Regions from separate parts of the Homo sapiens genome. Here region 2 is linked to region 1. A link means that fine-mapping ties the variant in region 1 to the plasma level of a protein whose gene starts in the linked region. Region 1 holds a variant in brackets. A gene starts in the other region. All regions are shown on their reverse strands.

What was found. A credible set is the group of variants that fine-mapping cannot tell apart. PIP is the chance, under the fine-mapping model, that this variant and not a neighbour inherited with it causes the effect. The UK Biobank Pharma Proteomics Project read protein levels with antibody pairs (Olink). The fine-mapping took linkage between variants from a reference panel, not from the people measured, so its PIPs are less certain.
Region 2: PVALB starts here. The variant in region 1 is the best candidate, but not a certain one, in a credible set for the plasma level of the PVALB protein (UK Biobank, PIP 0.55).

Annotation. Positions count from the first base shown.
Region 1 is chrX:39,834,404-39,843,172 of GRCh38, reverse strand. MIR1587 (microRNA 1587) reads right to left here and starts at 5,612; the gene lies at 5,560-5,612. RefSeq lists a silencer at 3,175-3,363. The variant G/T (reference allele first, on the strand shown) is at 4,481.
Region 2 is chr22:36,810,847-36,819,511 of GRCh38, reverse strand. PVALB (parvalbumin) reads left to right here and starts at 2,477. Exons shown (of 4, transcript NM_001315532.2): 1 at 2,477-2,567; 2 at 4,277-4,409; 3 at 5,757-5,866. The coding sequence starts at 2,507.

The sequences.
Region 1 (8,769 bases):
GGCTGTGATTTCAAGTGTCCTCATGCAAGAGTACTAGCTCTCCTACACCAGAGCATATAGACTTTCAGAAAAGGATGGAGAATAAAAAGAAGGAGGCCCGTATGAAGACAGCCAACTTAGAAAACAGCAGGGCCCAGTTCGAGTGAGAGCAAGGCCAATATTGTGTGTGTGTGTGTGTGTGTGTGTGTGTGTGTGTTTTATGGCCAAACTGTATCTAGGGATGCTAAATAAAAGATACCAATTTTATAATATATGTTGTAAACGAAGCCCTCAAACTGTTTAAAATGAGTATTTCGGTAGCCATATGCTCTGCATGGTCACATATATGTATATGTGATATGGGTGTGTGTGCGCACACACGTGCCGGTATGTGCATATATACCTCTGCATGTTCAGAGGTGAAGAGACATTCATACACTCTGTGCTATGCAAAGCTATATGAGTCATATGGGAATTTATTTAAAATATTGATATTCCCAGTTAAAACAACACTGGGCAATATTGTCATTGCATACACGAGCTGTTTTGAAGCTGGAGAGGGGAAACAGAGACCCTTTCTCCTCCTGAAGAGCTGCCTGGAATACCAGAATGGGCAACTCGCTGCAATAAGCCGAAATGCACAGAAATTACACTTGAACTAATGCCTAAAACCTGACGGAGACATACTTCATAGTTAATCTGGTTACTCGGGGTTTATTTCACAGTCAGAAGTTCTTATGATGGAAGGGGCTCCTGCTGGCTTCTCCCAGACACATGACTGAATTAATGAATGAATGAATTCAACTTACCAGAGCAGATTTAAACTGCTTACTGAAACAAAATCTGGTCATTTTTCTTCCTTCTGTTTTCTTTTAAAAGATAAATACAAGCCTCATATGGATGCTCTAAGAGTCATTAATCCTGGATAACCGACTTGTTTTATCTTTTGATTAAAAAAAGGCAGGCTGACCGACAGCAAGCCTACAACAGCAGACTCATTAACAAGCCGGGTTCAGATGTGGCCTGGCGAATAAACACCCAGTGTTCCTTTAACCAGGCAGCACCCCGACAGGAAGGCCTCGTGCTCCCGGGCTTAAAATGCAAGGAACAGGTAAACCAGCCTTCTCTTGCTGAAGCAGCAGAAAGCTCTCACGTTTTTTTCAGAATGAGCGCTTTCTGCGATACTACTTGGTTGTCAAATTTTAATGGGTGCTTGTTAACAGGGACTTTGAAATATTGTGATGTATTTGACCATCAGCAGCTTTCTGGCCTGCTGTTGGGGCTGAGCTTGGTGTATTTTAATAGGCACCTTAACTACCCGGGGATGAGGTCTGTAATACTCTCAGGCACTGGATGGGAAGGCCCAGCCAGTGGCGGGTGGGGGGCGGGGTGTGGAATGCGGGATCCCAGAGATGGAGAGAGGACTGCTGGGTTCCCTTGGCCACTGAAAGCTCTGAGAGTGTCTGGGGATGCAGGGTTTCCTTAACGTGCCTGGCTAAACCTGGGAGAGGCTAGGGGCTAGCTCTGCTGGTCCTCACAGCTGCCTGTGAGGATTTAAAACACACCTCTTGTAAAGGCGGGTGAGAGTTGGGGGTGGCTCTTTCTTGCCCTTCCTCCCCTCTTCTTCCTCTCCTTCCTCCCCTTTTCCTCTTCATCCTCCCCACTCTGTTCTCCCCCACTTCTCCTTCCTTTCTTTTTCTTCTCCCCTCCTCCCTTCCTGGTCCTCCTTCTTCCACTCTCCCTCTCTCTCCTCCCCCTCTCCCTTTCTTCCCTAATGCTCAGTCCAAGATGTAAGAGTATCTAAATATCTCATGTTGAGTGCTGCTAGTAAAATGCCACTTCTCTGAATGACATTCTCAGTCCGACTCCAGCTTGCTTGCCTGCTCCTCCGTCAGCCTTTCCCCAACCCACCACCACCACACACTTCCACCCCAAACACACACGAAGGCCTAGCTTGCCTGTCCGATTGTCAAGGAAAGACAGAAGATTGCTTCTTGGCACCTTAATCTGTGTCTGAGTAACAGAATTGGGACTTTCAGGGCTTCAGGGAAGGAGGGACTAACTACAAGGGGAGGGGGCAGCCCAGCCACGGAGAGGGCAGCCAACAGCTGGGCCAGGGCCTGATGCCCGCCCAACAGCCCCAGCTCCAACCACAGCACCCGACTCCGGGCCATTCCATGTGGGATCGTGACCTGGTAAGCAAGAGTAACTGTTTGCAAAGATCTCTACATCAAGTTCTTGGAGGGAGGCTGACTTTGCCTGGACCTGGCAGAGGGGATGTGTGTGTGTGTGAGTGCATGTGTGTGCACGCCAAGCTCTCTTGTGTCCCTGGGGAGAGGGAATGAATGCGTTGGTGGGGGAGGCAGGCGACGATCTGCCTAGAGCCGCCGGGCACCACCGCGCGTTCCGAAGAGGCAAGAGTGTTTTGCCAGTGGAAAGCTTATTTTGCCCAGCAGGACCAAAAATCCAATTAAAGAAAGAATGAGGGAAATGTGAAGTCTGGACTGAGCGCTGGCACCTCCCTGGCCGACTTCCTTGGCAGGGATCTCTGTCGAGGGGAAGGCTCAATGATGGCTCTGGGGATGGCCGAACAGAGAGGCTCCCACGCGCCATAGCCAAACACAGGGGCAGCTGCCAGTGACTGGGCCCTGCCTGTCCCTGCCGCCTGCTGCCATGGCCTCCTGCAAGGACCCGCTGGTGGTCCTTGGTGGGGTGGAGAGCTAGGCCGCCTGGCAGCAGGGAGAGCACCACCCCAGTCCCAGCTCTCGGGCCATTTGAACCACCCACCCGCCCGCGCCTATTGACATCGGTGAGAATTGCACAGGCAGATTAAAGACAGCATATGGCCCCCCAACTGGAAGCCAGCGGAGCTGAACCAACACTGGCAAATTGTGTTCAAACCGCATTGAGAATCCTGGCAGCTGCACCTGGCATGGGGAGCAGCCGGCGACCTGCATACAAAGGGAGTTTTATACACAGGGGGCTGCAGCAGCAGCGGTAGCAGCACCGCCACCCCCCACACCCCCAGCCTGCTCTCCCCTCCCCCTCCATCCAGATTTGGTCATTGACCCTGGGAAGTGGGGAGCTATTTGTCCAGGTTTCTGAACCTGGAGGAAGGAGCCCATGAAGGCAAGCTCCTATTTGGAGCTTTAAAGCCAGGACAGATTTATCAGGGTCCTTTACTGCCCCCTCACCCCAGCCCTGTGTCCATGTACCTCTCTCCCCAGTTTACCAATGGCCATATTTCCCTAGCCAGGGGGAGGCCGGGAGCCCACCCAGAACCTCAGAGGGCCTGCAGCCTTCTCAGCTTGACTGGTAAAGGTGGCAGTTCATCTCTTCCATCCTCTGGGGCAGAACCCAAGCGAGGGAATCTCTAAGTGTTCCTCAGGGCCAGGGTGACATGCAGACTTCTGGGTCACCCCTTGTTTTCCTCCCTCCAGCCCTGTCTAAGAAAAAATAAAAAGGCAGAGACATTTTTGTTACCTCATGAACGAAAGAGAAAACATTATGTAACTGGTACATAGCAATAAATAACCAAGGGTGATGGAGTTGGGGAGTGGGAAGGGATGAGACCAATTAACTTGCAATAAACCAGCTGAACCAGGTAGGGGCAGTGTTCCGAGAGAGTCAACACGCAAAACCTGCCCCGGGGTGAGGGTGGGGGGGTCTGGCACCTGCTTAATCAGGTGTGTGCTGCGGGTCTGCTTGGGACACTGGAGGATGCTGGGTGGTAAAATCTGGCAAACTCAAGGGGATGTAAAATCAGAGGGGGACGATTTGGGGGTTCTGCTTCATGGAATAGGGTTGAAAGAATCAGTCATTGGTTTCCTAAGGATGCTTCATCCTGGAGGACTGCTGCTTTTAGACCACAAGAAGTCTTTAAAATGCTCTCTTGTTTCTATTTCCCCCGCAGATGGCATTTGAGGGGGAGAGGATAAGCCAAGGGAAGAGGAAAATCAAAATGCTTTCAGCAGCACGGCTTCCGCATGCTGGAGAGGTGGTGTATGGGGTTGCGGCTTGGCCTGTTTTCTGAAACCTGCAAGGTAGCACCCTGAAGGTAGCTTGTAACCCTCCACTCTCACACCAAGGTAATACCTCCTTCCTGTCTGGCCACCTGTCACAGCCAGTGGAAGTAGGGTTTGGAGGGATGGTTGGGACATCCTTACACAATGTTAGGTGGAGACTTAGTGATGGCTTCGGGGGAAGGCAGAGGGAGTCTCTCTTGCGTCAGGGGGGTGGAAGCACCGCTGCCATGATCAAGCCCTTTGGATGAAAGGAGGGCTGTGAGATTTGCTGCCCAGATGTGGGTTTGCAAATGACCTTGTTGGTCTGTTACCCTGGCCTAGCTCATAGAAGCTTTCTTCTCCTGTGGCTTGGGAGAGAGCCACCGTAAAAGACAAGCTGTGGCTAGTAAGCATCTTCTATGTGCTCTGGACTGTCTCATGCAAGAGCTAGGGCATAGGATCCTCATGATGGCCCTTCAAGAGGGGTTAATCTTGTC[G/T]TTGTTGCACTTCTATGAGGAAACAGACCATGTGAGGCTAAGTAACTTGCTCAAGGTCACACAGGGGTGATTGATGGGGTCACCCAGACTGTCTGACTCTTGTGTGGGTATGGCTGCCCTCCTTGTCAGCCGGCGGGGTATAGAGGCTGGCCCTCCATTCTTGATTTGCTCAGTAATGGGGGCAGGACAACTCCACCTCCTTCTTCCCAAAGGAAAGTTGAGCTCATTTTGGAAAGAAAGCAAACAGCCGTTCTCCTCTGGGGCTCTATCCGGGGACAGGGCAGAAAGGAAATCCAGTACACTGCGGAAGGAGTCATTTTTTGGCCTGGTTCTCACCACCCATCTCTAGTTCAAACCCTGCTTTTAGCATATCTGTGTTGATGGGGCAGGGCCTGGGAATCACGATTTGCCTTTAAGAAGTGGATGCACTTGGAGAGGCTGGCGCTTCCACCAACCAGGAAGAGCTGGGGGCACCCTGCTTGCTCTCCGAAACTTCACAGAAAGCCCCAAGAGCTGGGGATGTGGGTTCTGTTCTGGATCTCCAAGAGACGACGTCATGCTAGAATGTTCCCTTCATTTTTGAAAACTGCACTCCTGCCTGGGGCCATCTCGTGTCTTCAATGGCTAAAGTAGATGCTGATTTGGGCAACCAGCTTTCTTTTCTGTTTTGAAAATTAATGCACCTGTGTAGTCACCCAGGCTTGATAGTTGCAACAATAACTCATGGACAAGTTGTGTGACTGGTGGTAGTGACTCCATTTGCTCACACCTCCTTGGATTCAGTCCCTGGTGTAGTTCCCTCCCACACTGACTGTGGGTTTGGCCAGGTGACTTGCTTTGGCCAATGGGACACCATCAACCATGATTAGCAGAGGTTTGAAAAGTGCTTGTGCATTGAGATTTGCCCTCTCACGCTGTTCTTGGGACCCTTACAACTGCCAACATGTGAATGTGCCTGGGTTAGGCAGGTGGAGGTATGTGGCCCAGTCACCACTGCCACCCAGCTGACAACCAGCACCAACCACCAGACACACTGCATGAGGCCATCCTAGACCATTCGGTTCCCAGGTGACCTGCCAGCTGGTCACAGGTGAGTCCAGCAGAAGAACTGCCCAACCCAGCCCAGCCCAAATTGCAGATCTGCAGAATCATGGGCTGATAAATGATTGCTCTTTTAAGCCACTAAGTTTTGGGGTGTTTTTTTATTGTGATAAAATATGCATAACATAGCATTTACCATTTTAACCATTTTTAAACGTACAGTTGAGTGGCATTCAGTACATTCACATTGTGCTACCATCACCACCAGCCATCTGCAGAAGTTTTTCATCATTTGCCGGGGTTCTTTATATATCTAAGCTCACTCACTGATTCACAAGCTGCGGGGGCTGCCTGCACCTCCCTGACTGTCTTGCAGCTGATGAGCTTGTCTCTGAGTGGAGGCTCAGGCTCAGGCACCGAGCTCTGGAGTGAGGCCCAGTTCCAAACTGAAAGAGAACAATGTCCACGGGTCTCGGCTGTAGCCACAGTTTAACACAACCCTGGCTTCCCTCAGGCATGCTCACAAACGATCCTGTTCCTGTGGGTGCAGGGAAGACAGACAAGCAGGGTCTCCACAAGGGAGGCTGCAGACCACAGGCAGACCCGGTGACAGGGGACATGCTGGGACTTGCTGTTTAAAGAGCCACCACCAGGAACTTGGCACCTGACCTTGTGCTCAGGGGTGAGCTGTGACAGCTGCCACACCAGCCCTGCTGTCCTTGCCACTTCTAGCTGTGTGACTTGGGGTGAGTCACTTAAGCTTTCTGAGTCTGTTTTTTTCCCCCATCTGCTAACTGAATGTAATCGTAGTGCCATGTTTTAGGGCAAGGATTAGAGGAGCCAGTGTTGGACACACTAACAGTTGCTTCATTAATTAATATATGGGGCTGGCCAGGATCCCTATTCCCCCTGGCCCCAGACCCCTACCATCTTTCCTCATCCTTACTGGGAAGGGGCCTTTAGAAAGAAAAGAGACAAGGTCGGGCACGGTGGCTCATGCCTGTAATCCCAGCACTTTGGGAGATCACCTGAGGTCAGCAGTTGGAGACCAACCTGGCCAACATGGTGAAACCCTGTCTCTACTAAAAATACAAAAATTAGCTGGTCATGGTGGCACTCGCCTGTAATCCCAGCTACTGGGGAGGCTGAGGCAGGAGAATTGCTTGAACCCAGGAGGTGGAGGTTGCAGTGAGCCAAGATTGTGCCACTGCATTCCAGCCTAGGGGACAGAGCAAGACTCTGTAAAAAAAAAAAAAAAAAAAAAAGAAAAGAAAAGAGAAAGACTTTGTTAGCATCAGAAATTATGCTTTGAGAGGGATCTTCAGTATTAGCTGGAGAAACACTCATTTGTCTTTTAGATACTCACTTCTTGATATTCATGTTAGGACCCTGGGCTAGGCTGACAGTGTATATAAATAAATACGGGGGCTCTGGGAGAGGAGGGAGAGAGCAAGGGCATTTGGGGATGCTGTGGCAGACTGTTGTGTTTATTTTCTTCATCTTCTTATGTAATAGAACCCCTGATTTTTAGTTGGGCATACACTCATCTGGAATAAAGACAATGTTTCCCAGCTTCTCTTATTGCTAGGTATGGCTACATGACTAAATACTAGCCAATTTTATTTCATGTCCTGAGGCATCCTCCAGGAACTTCCTTAAGAGAGAGCTGTGTCACACACTTTGCCCTTTTCCTTCATCCCTCCCAATATCCTACCATCTGGAATGCAGATGTAATGGCTGAAGCTCCAGACACCATTTTGGATAATGAGGACAAGGTCACTCCTAGCTGTGGCAGAACAATGAGCTGGATGGAACCAGAATTTCTGTCCCAGTTACTTTCGGTGTGTAACAAACTACTGCAGAGTTGGTGGCTTAAAACAACCATTTTAGGGCTGGGCGTGATAGCTCACGCCTGTAATCCCAGCACTTTGGGAAGCTAAGGTGGGCAGATCACTTAAGGCCAGTTTGAGACCAGCTTGGTTAACATGGTGAAACCCCATCTGTACCAAAAATACAAAAATTAGCCAGGCATGGTGGCGCACACCTGTAGTCTCAGCTACTCGGGAGGCTGAGGCACAAGAATCACTTCAACATGGGAGGCGGAGGTTGCAGTGAGCCGAGATCATGCTACTGCAATCCAGCCTGGGGGAACAGAGTGAGCCTCTGTCTCAAAAATCCCAAACAACCATTTTATTGTGCTCATAGATTCTGTGGGAAAGGACTCTGGGCAGGGCTTGGCTGGGCAATGCTTTTGTTCCTAGTGGTGTTGACTGGCGTCACTCAGTGGTACTCAGCTGACTGAATGGCTGGTCTGGAAGATCCAACACAGCTTCACTTACACATCTGGAGCCTGGAATAAGGATGGCTCAAAGATTAGGACTGTCAACCAGGGCACCTATACATGGCCTCTCCATGTGGCTTGATGTCATCACAGCATAGTAACCTCAGGGTAGTTGGATCTCTTACATGGTGGCTCTGAGCCCCAAGCAAGAATATTCCAGTGAACAAGGTGGAGAACATATGACCTTTTATGATCCACCCAAAAATCTTGCAGTATCACTCTACCAAATTCTATTGGCCGAAACAGTCACAAGCTGGCTTAGATTCAACCTAGGAGGGGAATCAGACGCCCCTTCTCCACTGGTGGGCTATCAAGCTCATGATACAGAAGAGCGTGAGGGACAGGAGATACTGTTGTAGCCAGTTCTGGAAAATTCTACCTGCCATAGTCCCTGAGGGTTCATGGAGCACAGCCACAGCTGCCACACCAGCCCCAGACCACCTAGCTTGGGTATTTGGGTGAGAAATACACTTTTGACTCATTTAAGCCACTTTCATTTCTGGTCTTTGTTACTCAGAGTTAAACCCTGTGCTAACTCACAGAGATCTGCTTTGTATAGACTTTAAAGGACTTGATGAGAAAGGTGAAGGACTATTTCACCAGCCTCTGGACTTAGTGTGAGTTAGTGTTTGCCTAAAATAACTCTCCTATTCTAATGATAATGGACAGTACTAATAAGTCCCCACACCCACGGCCCTGCCGAGCCCTTCAAGACCTTGAGGCCAAAATTAAGATGACACCTGTGTATACATTATCTGTATCAATGTATGTGTGTCAGAAAACTATAGGGACATTTCAGGGGTGATAGACAAGAGGGACCTCACTTTCCTTTTTTCTTTTTTTGAGACAGGGTCTTGCTCTGTCACCTAGGCTGGCACGATCATGGCTCTCTGCAACCTCGACTTCC
Region 2 (8,665 bases), not on the chromosome of region 1:
ACCTCCAGGCTCACTTCCCGACAGGACTTCCCACCAGCCCAGCCTTTCAGTGCAGGCTCCAGCCCTCCACCCCCACCCGAGGTGAGTGGCAGCTACCGAGGTTGGAGGATAGAGGGATGCAGCAGGATGAGCCAGCTGGAAGGGAGAGCTACATCTCCCCTGTCCGTAGTGACCCGGGGAGGGGGGTGCGGTGGGGGTGCTGGAGGCAGGGCAGCTGTGGAATGTAGGGCTGAGAGCATGCATTCCTGCTTCTCCACCCAGACTCCTGGTGTGGCCTGGGGCAAACTCCCCCCACCCACCGCCCCCCGTGGCTGGGCCTCAGATTCCCCAGCCTTAGAACGAGAGGGCTGGAGTCAGACATCTGTGGACTCTGGTGATGCCATCAGAGAGGACCCAGAGGGCAGAGGAGGACTACCCAGGGCTGATGGGCTGACCTAATGACATTGATGCTCTGGCTGGGAGGGCTCAGTCCCGGAGGGGGTGTCAAGTTGATAGGAGAACTCAGCAGCAGGGAGAGATGGAGGAAGGAGATGGAAGAAGAGTGGGCCCCTGTTGAGGCTGCAGCCTTTGCCACAGGGTAGCTGCTTAGGGGCTCACCAGGAGCCAGTGTGTGGCTGAGATGTATGGGACCTGATAGAGCTGGGTCCCAGGCACCAGGGAGGATCACCCAGAGAGTCACTGAACTCCACACGAGTGAGTCCAGGGGTGTACCCTGCTCTGCTATTGCTTTACCATGTGTCCTTAGACCATTCACGGACTCTGTGCCTCCGTTTCTCCACTGGTATAGCTGAAGCGTCCTTCAGCTGGGGAAATCCATTCTCCAACTAGGCTCCTGGAGTGAGCTGAGCCTGGGAGTTGAAATGATAGCATAGGAGCCTGGCATATCTGAGTCAGCAGCCCAGCTGGGGACAAGGTGCAGAGGTGACGGCAGTAGCAGCAGGGTCCAGGGCAGCTGAGGGGTCCTGGGAAGTCCTGGAGCTGAGAGGCATCAGGTCAGGAGCTGCATCCTTGGTGCCTTGGAAGCCATCTGGCGGGCTGTGGCTTGAAGGAGCTGACTCACAGGGAGGGGGCAGCTGGAGCCAGCAGAGGTATCCTAAGGTTTCCAGGAAGGGCAGCCATCCAGGGCTGAGCTGCAGGAGACAATGTTGACAGCGATGTCAGGGAACTTGAGTTACTGGGCAGCTGGACAGCTGCTCTCCCTGGTCCCCACCACCCAGGGCCACCACAGCCCAAGGCCCTGCCTACCTGCCAATACCTTAAGTTGCAGTCCCCAGGTCCCACTACATGGGACCACTGACGTCATCAACACATCAGAAGGAGACAGAAGCCCAGAGAAGGTCACAACCCAAGGTCACACTGGGACTTAGTGCAGCCCAGGATCTAGAACCCAGGCCTCCTGACTCCCTGTCCAGCGCTCACACACTCTAGAAGCAGCTGGTTGCAGCTTGAAACCTTGGGAACCATGGGGAAGAACACAACGGGTCTCTGGCTGCATACAGATAGGCACCGTGACATTTTTCCAGAGGTGAAGTTCAGACCCCTACACCTGCTTAGGTTGTCTAGAAAGTGTGGTCTGAAGGTGCTACCCTTCTTCCAAACACATATGGGGCTTTCTGGGAGGGAGCATAGCAATTCCAAGCGGACTCTCCCACCCTACTCTGCCCAAAAAAGGTTTATAGGAGTAGGGGGAGTCTGGACCCATGATGCCAGGACCCAGGAGACCAGGAAAGCAAGTAGTTAGTAGAGATCTGAGAAGTGTTCTTCGAAAAATCAAGCCAGCAAAAAAATAAAAAATAAAAGTAAAACATCAAATCAGGTTTTAGAATATGCATCCCTGGCCAGATGTGGGATGGGGCACCCGAAGTGGGCCCCAGCAGCTCCTGCCTGTCCCTGTCCCTGTCCCTGCCACCTCCTCCCTGCGTCGGGTGGGTCAGGTTTCAGGACCTCAGCGCTCAGATTTTGCAGCATAAATTTGCATCCAGGACAGACCAGAGCAGAGGCTGAGGTAGGAGTGGAGAGAGAAAGGGAGCAGGGCCTAGGAGGTCCTGAGGTGCAGGCTGGCCGCTGAAGGTTCAGGATCTTCCCCCACGCGGCAGGACATCCGCCAAGGTTCCCAGATCTGAGACGGCGCACCTCCTGCGTGTCCTTGACGGCAGGTGGACTTTCCAGACCCAGCTGGTGACGCCAGTGCCCCCTAAATCCCAGAGGTGGCCCCTTCCCTCGTGCCCTGGCCGCAGCCCCTGGGATCCCGCGGACCCCTGGCCTGGCGGTGCAGGAGTGGTAGCAGGTCCGCGCGCCTTCTTGCCGGCGGCCGGCGCTGCTCAGCGGCGCGGCTGGACTGAGCCGCTCCCGCTGCGCTCAGAGTCCGGGCCCCTGGCGCCATGCCAGGCCCGGCGGGCGTGCGCCCGGCGCGCAGCACTGCAGCGCTGGTCATATGAGCAGAAATGATGAGAAAAGCACTTTTTAATCTTTTCGCACTTGCTCTGCCCGCTCAAACAGTTGCAGGATGTCGATGACAGACTTGCTGAACGCTGAGGACATCAAGAAGGCGGTGGGAGCCTTTAGCGGTGAGCAAGCGCGCTCCCCTCCCCATCCCTCTCCCCTCGTCCACCGCCCGCGCCCCTGCACTCCGCCGGCCCCGCAGCCGGCGGATCCTCCCCAGCGCGCTTCTGCCCACACTTCCCGCTGGGCGCCGGCGAGGTCGGGGCGGGGGCGTCCTTGGCAGTTCCCAAACTCTGTCCGGGCGAGGCTTGGCGCGGGGAGCGGGCGGGGAAGAGGGCGCCCCGCCTAAGTTACAGAAACTTGAGGGTGCTGAAGGCCCGGTGGCTGGGAGGACTCAGGGTCCGGGACCAAGGGCGAAGACCAGGGTCGGAGGAGAGACCTCCAGGGTCCTTGTACGAGCTCTCTGGACGTCCTCTTTAAGGCACTTAGAGGGGACTGCAGGGGGCATCCTCCTCTCCAAGAGACCCCTTTCCTGGACCCTCATTCTGGACAGGACTTTTCCCGCCAGGCGGTAGCCTTTGTTGGCCCCCTGACTGTCCTAGTTCCTTTACTGAGATTCAGCAACGGACCTGCGGGCGAGGTGACCTTCTGGAGCCGGCGCACAGCTCTGCCTAAGCCCGCACGGGGCATCCTCAGTGCCTCAAACCTCCAGCCTCCTTAGGCGGGCAGGGGAGGGGAACTGGCAGTCTCACCTCTCCCAGCTGCCCGGGACTTCAGCGCTAAGCTGCCCGCCTTCCTCCTCCCCTGTCCTCCAGATGGGGAAATCAGGGAACTGTCTTGGAGAGGACAAGACATTTGCCCAAGGTCACCTAGCTGGGCAGAAGGGGTATTAGAACTGGGTTGCCCAGCCTAGTGTCGGAGGTGGACAGGGCAACTTTCCTTGTCTCTAGCCCTGTGCTGAGGGGAAGAGAACATGACTTCAACAGCCATTCCCTACACACACACACACACACACACACACACAAAATACATGATCTAACATTGTACCCTTCCCCAGGTGTTCTAAAACAGGACCCCAAGATACAGAAAATTGCAGGTAGAAAAGGACCCCCATTTCCTTTCTGCTTTGCACCCCCTCCCCTGGGCACAAGAACCTCTCTGGGAAGCCACCCTCCCAGGGTCCTGGGATAACCCTCTCCCTTCACCTCAAGCCCATGTGGGAAGAAACTTAACTGGGTGTTTCTCGGGAGCCTCCTAACACCCCCTTCCCACTGCCTCCGAAGTGGATTTCTGCGCAGAGCCAGGACTTCCGGGTTTGCCCCTCCTCCTCCCACTGTATGACCTTGAGGGAAACCTGTCCTTTCTATGTCAATTTTCTGGCAACAAAGTCTGTGGCCAAGAAAGAAGGTCAACCCTCCTCCCCCTAACCCCAGGACCATGTTCATGCCCCCTTCAATTCCCCAGCCCACTCCCAACCAGCTGGCACTCAAAAGTCTTCCTGGGCACAAGGTTCTCAGAAGAACAAAAGCCTTTGGTTCTTAGGTGCTGCTCCCATCATCAGCAATGGGTGCAGTGGAGGTGGGGCGTGGGGGCGGGCTTGAGAGCCAGGGAGGTCTGGGTTTGAGCACACCTCTTCCACTCCCAGCCTTGTGACCTTGGACAGGTTATCCTCCCTTGCCCGGGCTCCCTCAGCCCTCCAATGGAGGTGGGTACCTCTCATTCCCCATGACTGGCATGTGGGAATCCATCAACAAATGCCTTGATGCCCCCCATTCTCCCAGGCTTCCCTACCAGCCTTTCTGGTCCTTGTTTGACCCTGCTCTTCCCCCCACAGCTACCGACTCCTTCGACCACAAAAAGTTCTTCCAAATGGTCGGCCTGAAGAAAAAGAGTGCGGATGATGTGAAGAAGGTGTTTCACATGCTGGACAAGGACAAAAGTGGCTTCATCGAGGAGGATGAGCTGGGGTAAGCGGAGGCCTGCAGGGGCTGCCCAGCCCACGGCTGCACGAGAGGGAGTGGGGGCTGGGACTCTAGCTTCCAAGTGTCCATCAGACCTGCCTTTCACTCTGCCTGCTTCACAGAAAGTAACCGTGCGTGAAGGCAGGGCTCCGACCCAGGGCACCAGGGGAGAAGGCTTCCTGGTGCTATTGCTTCGGAAGAGTAAAACCCTCAGCTGAAAGTGCAACTAACTAGGTTAAATGATAGCCACTTAATATTGCTAATGGAATGTTGCTACTTAATAATTTAATGCAAATGAAGAGGCAGTTTTCTTGCTGCCTAACACCATAGGCAGGGCAGAAAGCATTCACTTGAGTATTTCATTGATTTTCATTTGTCTAAAAGACACTTTCCACCTTCCTGCAGCCCCCAGCCCTCTGGTACTAGTGTGGCTGGTGCAATTTCTAGGCAAGCCAGGGATGCAGAACCACCTCTGAGAGTCCAGGGGTCCTTGGAGAAAAGCAGAGAAGGAGAAGGCTGTGGCTAGGAAAATGCATGCCTCCATCTGCAAAAGCATCTCCCACCATAATTCCCTCAGCCACCCGGCCATGTCTACTGACTCAGGTTGCCTTATGTCACTTTCTGGCCAAGAAAGCCTTGAGTTTTGTCAAAAAGAGAAGCGGGGGGTGGGTGTAGGGAGAGGCCTTTCAAGTAGGGACTTCCCCACCCATCCTGTCTCTCCCCTAAACCATCTCACAAGGGTACCTTCTGTCTAGAATCTTCACGTTCTACCCACTTACATCCAACATGCATGCACACTTATGCACACACACACACACACACACACACACACACACACACTCACAGAGGCTGACTTCCCCCTGTCCTCCAGGTATCACCTTCACCAGGAAGCCTCCCCTCTCCTCCCCTCACCGCAGGTGGGCAGATACAGCTTCTGAGTGCCCTCCTCCACGGCCCATCACACTGTGTGGTCTCTCTCGGAGCCCGTGACCTCCTTATTTTTTCCAGTGCCTTCCGAAGATCACCACTGTGACCCCACTTTCCAGCATACGCCAGACACAGAAATGACACTTAGTGAATACTTGTTGGATAAATTAACGAATGTAGGTGCCCTCCCTGAAGTGAGGACAACCCTTCACTGAGGACAGCCTGTCCTTTCCTAAATACTCACCCACGAAAGCACAGCCACCGAGCAGGCTACCTGGCCCAGAGCATCCGTGTGCGTGACTGCTGCTCGCTGCCTGTCCCAGCCATCCCTTTCCCCATACAGAAACCAGACCACCCTCCATCCAGCGTCCTGCAAGGCGACCTCGGCCTGACTCCCTCACCGGCTTTCTCCCTTTTCTCCTCCAGATTCATCCTAAAAGGCTTCTCCCCAGATGCCAGAGACCTGTCTGCTAAAGAAACCAAGATGCTGATGGCTGCTGGAGACAAAGATGGGGACGGCAAAATTGGGGTTGACGGTGGGTAGCCGTGACCTGGGGTCTGGGCATATTGTGGATCTTGGGGTGTTGGATGCGAAAAGTTTGAAGCTATGTCTGTCACAAGGAAGGGATGATATGGGGGTCCCTCACTCCCCCAGATTAGAAGACAAAAAGCAGTCCATTAGGTCTGAGAGCTCTGCCACATACTCCAGACAAAGGAAAACTGGTGTATTTTCCTAATTTGAAAACCTAAAAGGAATAGATTCTGTTTTTCCTGCTGGGTAGGGGATCCAGGAGGATTTGGGATTTTTTTTTCCTGAACTCTGCCTGCATTTTTGCATGGATACTGGCCCAACCTCTGCCCAAACTGGCTGTGTGACCTTGGGCAGTGTCTCTCGATCGCTGGGCCTCTGTCTCCCATCTCTAATCCAACGAAATGAGGCCGACTAATCCCCAAGGATCCTCTGCCTCTCACATCCTCAGATTCCAGGGATGGAAATTCCTATCTCCTGTCCTCCTCAGCATCTTGTCCTGGTGTCCTGTAACCCCAAGTCTCAAAACCTGTTTGGGTTTTACTCAAATATACTATTCTAGCCTTGCAGCAGAGCCAGGAAAAACAGTAAACCAGAAATCAGTGGGGAATTCAGACAGGGAATACCTGGCCCTGCCTTGCTTTGCAGGCTTCAATGTCAGCACAGGTGAGAGACCAGTGGCCCACCGTCCACTCCTTTCTCCATTTGGCTCTGTGTGGCATTCATGGAGCACACCCACATTGCTATCTCTCTTAGCTTATGATTTTCTCCGGAATTATCTCCATTTTGCAGGTGGGCAAATGGACTTTGAAGGTGCTTAGCCTAGTTGAAAGAGCTAGGACATAGCGGTGGAGTGGGGATTTAGAACCAGGCCTGAATGAGTGTTTGCAACATACTAAGCTGCCATTTGTTCCCATAATAGGCTTTTCTGCTGGTCTCAGAGAAAACTGTGTGTAGGTGTTTGGCCTCTGGGCCCCAGGCTATCTGGGTTCAAATCCCAGCCCTACCACTTTCGAGCTGTGTGACCTTGCGTAATTTGATAACTACTCTGAGCCTCTGTTTTCTCATCTCTGAACTGAATAGAATGATAATTCTTACAGGGTGATTACAAGGGTTAGATGTGTTAATATGTAAAGTGCCTAGAACAGTGTCTGGCACAGAGTAAATGTTATATATGTATTTGTTAGCTAATTTTTTTAAAACTAGGTCCCTTCGCAAGGGTACCTTCTGTCTAGAATCTTCACGTTCTACCCACTTACATCCAACATATAAGTGGATGTAAAACTTAAAACTAGGGATTGGGTTGCATTCATCCTTCTAGCCCCAGTATCTAGCCAATACCCCACACAGAGCAGGTGCTTCATAAACATCCGCTGCCTGAGTGTAAAGCCCAGACCCCCATGCTCTGCTCCTTCTCTGCCCCTTGCCAGCTGTGACCTTGAACACGTCACCTCTGCACACCTACGTTCCCTTGCCCGGCAAATGGGGTGCATCAGCTTCTCCTAAGACCTATTTGGGCTTGTTGTGAAAATTAAGATTCTGTGAACCCAAAATTGCTTTGGGAAAGGTACAAGGATTATGAAAGTAGGTGTATGCCTATGAGTTAGAGGGTTTTTTTTGTTGTTGTTGTTGTTGATTTCTTTTCTGTTTGTTTGTTTCCTGCCAGTAACGAGAATGGAGAATCCCTATCCAGGTCAAATGCAGGGGGTCCCCTGGCCATCTGATGCCAGCTGCCCTTCTTGTGGCTGGGAAGGAGGGAGGTGGTTTTAAAGGAGTGGAGCAGAGGGTATTGGAAAGGCATCATTGGCTTGGCCGCTCCTGGGGCTTCTGGTGCTTGGCAGATCCTCCCTCACACCCCCATCCCCACCAATCTGCTTATCAGACAGCTCCACCCCAAGGCCTGGCTCCCATCTGAACCCTGACCCTGGCCTCCAGACCTGCCTTCCATTTTTATTTGCAGCCAATATGCCATACCTCAGAAGCCCTGGGCTGGGTCTTCATGGCTGACTGCTCACAGAAAACCTACCTGATGAAGAGAAACCAGCCAAACCTGGCCCAGTTCCCTGCCTCCCTCCCTCCCTCCCTGCCACACTCAGATCTTAAGGCATCAACTAAACTCTTCTAACAGATCCAGCAGATGTTGACTGAGTAGCAACTCTGTGCCCGGCAATGGAAGAGGTAAAAATAATTCAGGCCCATTTCCTGACTGGGTGCCCCTGAGCAGCTACTCCTTAGCCCTGAGCCCCAGCTTCCTCATCTGTAAACTAGGCATTATAACATGGAAATGTGGCCTGTAGTGCCCAGCACATAACAAATGCTCAATAAATGGCCACTGCAATGCCTTATTTATTTATTTATTTATTTATTTATTTATTTAGAGACAGTCTCTCTCTGTCACCCAGGCTGGAGTGCAGTGGTGTAATCTCAGCTCTCTGCAACCTCTGCCTCCTGGGTTTAAGCAATTCCCCCCTCCCCCAGCCTCCTGAGTAGCTGGGATTACAGGCACGCACCACCATCCCCAGCTAATTTTTGTATTTTTAGTAGAGACGAGGTTTCACCATGTTGGCCAGGCTGGTCTCGAACTCCTGACCTCAAGTCATCCGCCCACCTCAGCCTCCCAAAGTGCTGGGGTTACAGGCATGAGCCACTGCACCCGGCCATGCAATGTCATTTTTATTGTCTGCAAATTGCTTGCAGCTCTACACATATACACAAACAAGCGATAGTGCCAGCCAGAGGCAGAGGCGCAGGCATCAGGCATTTTGTACGGACTTGGAGGCTAAGCCACAGGCTGTAGGGGACAGAG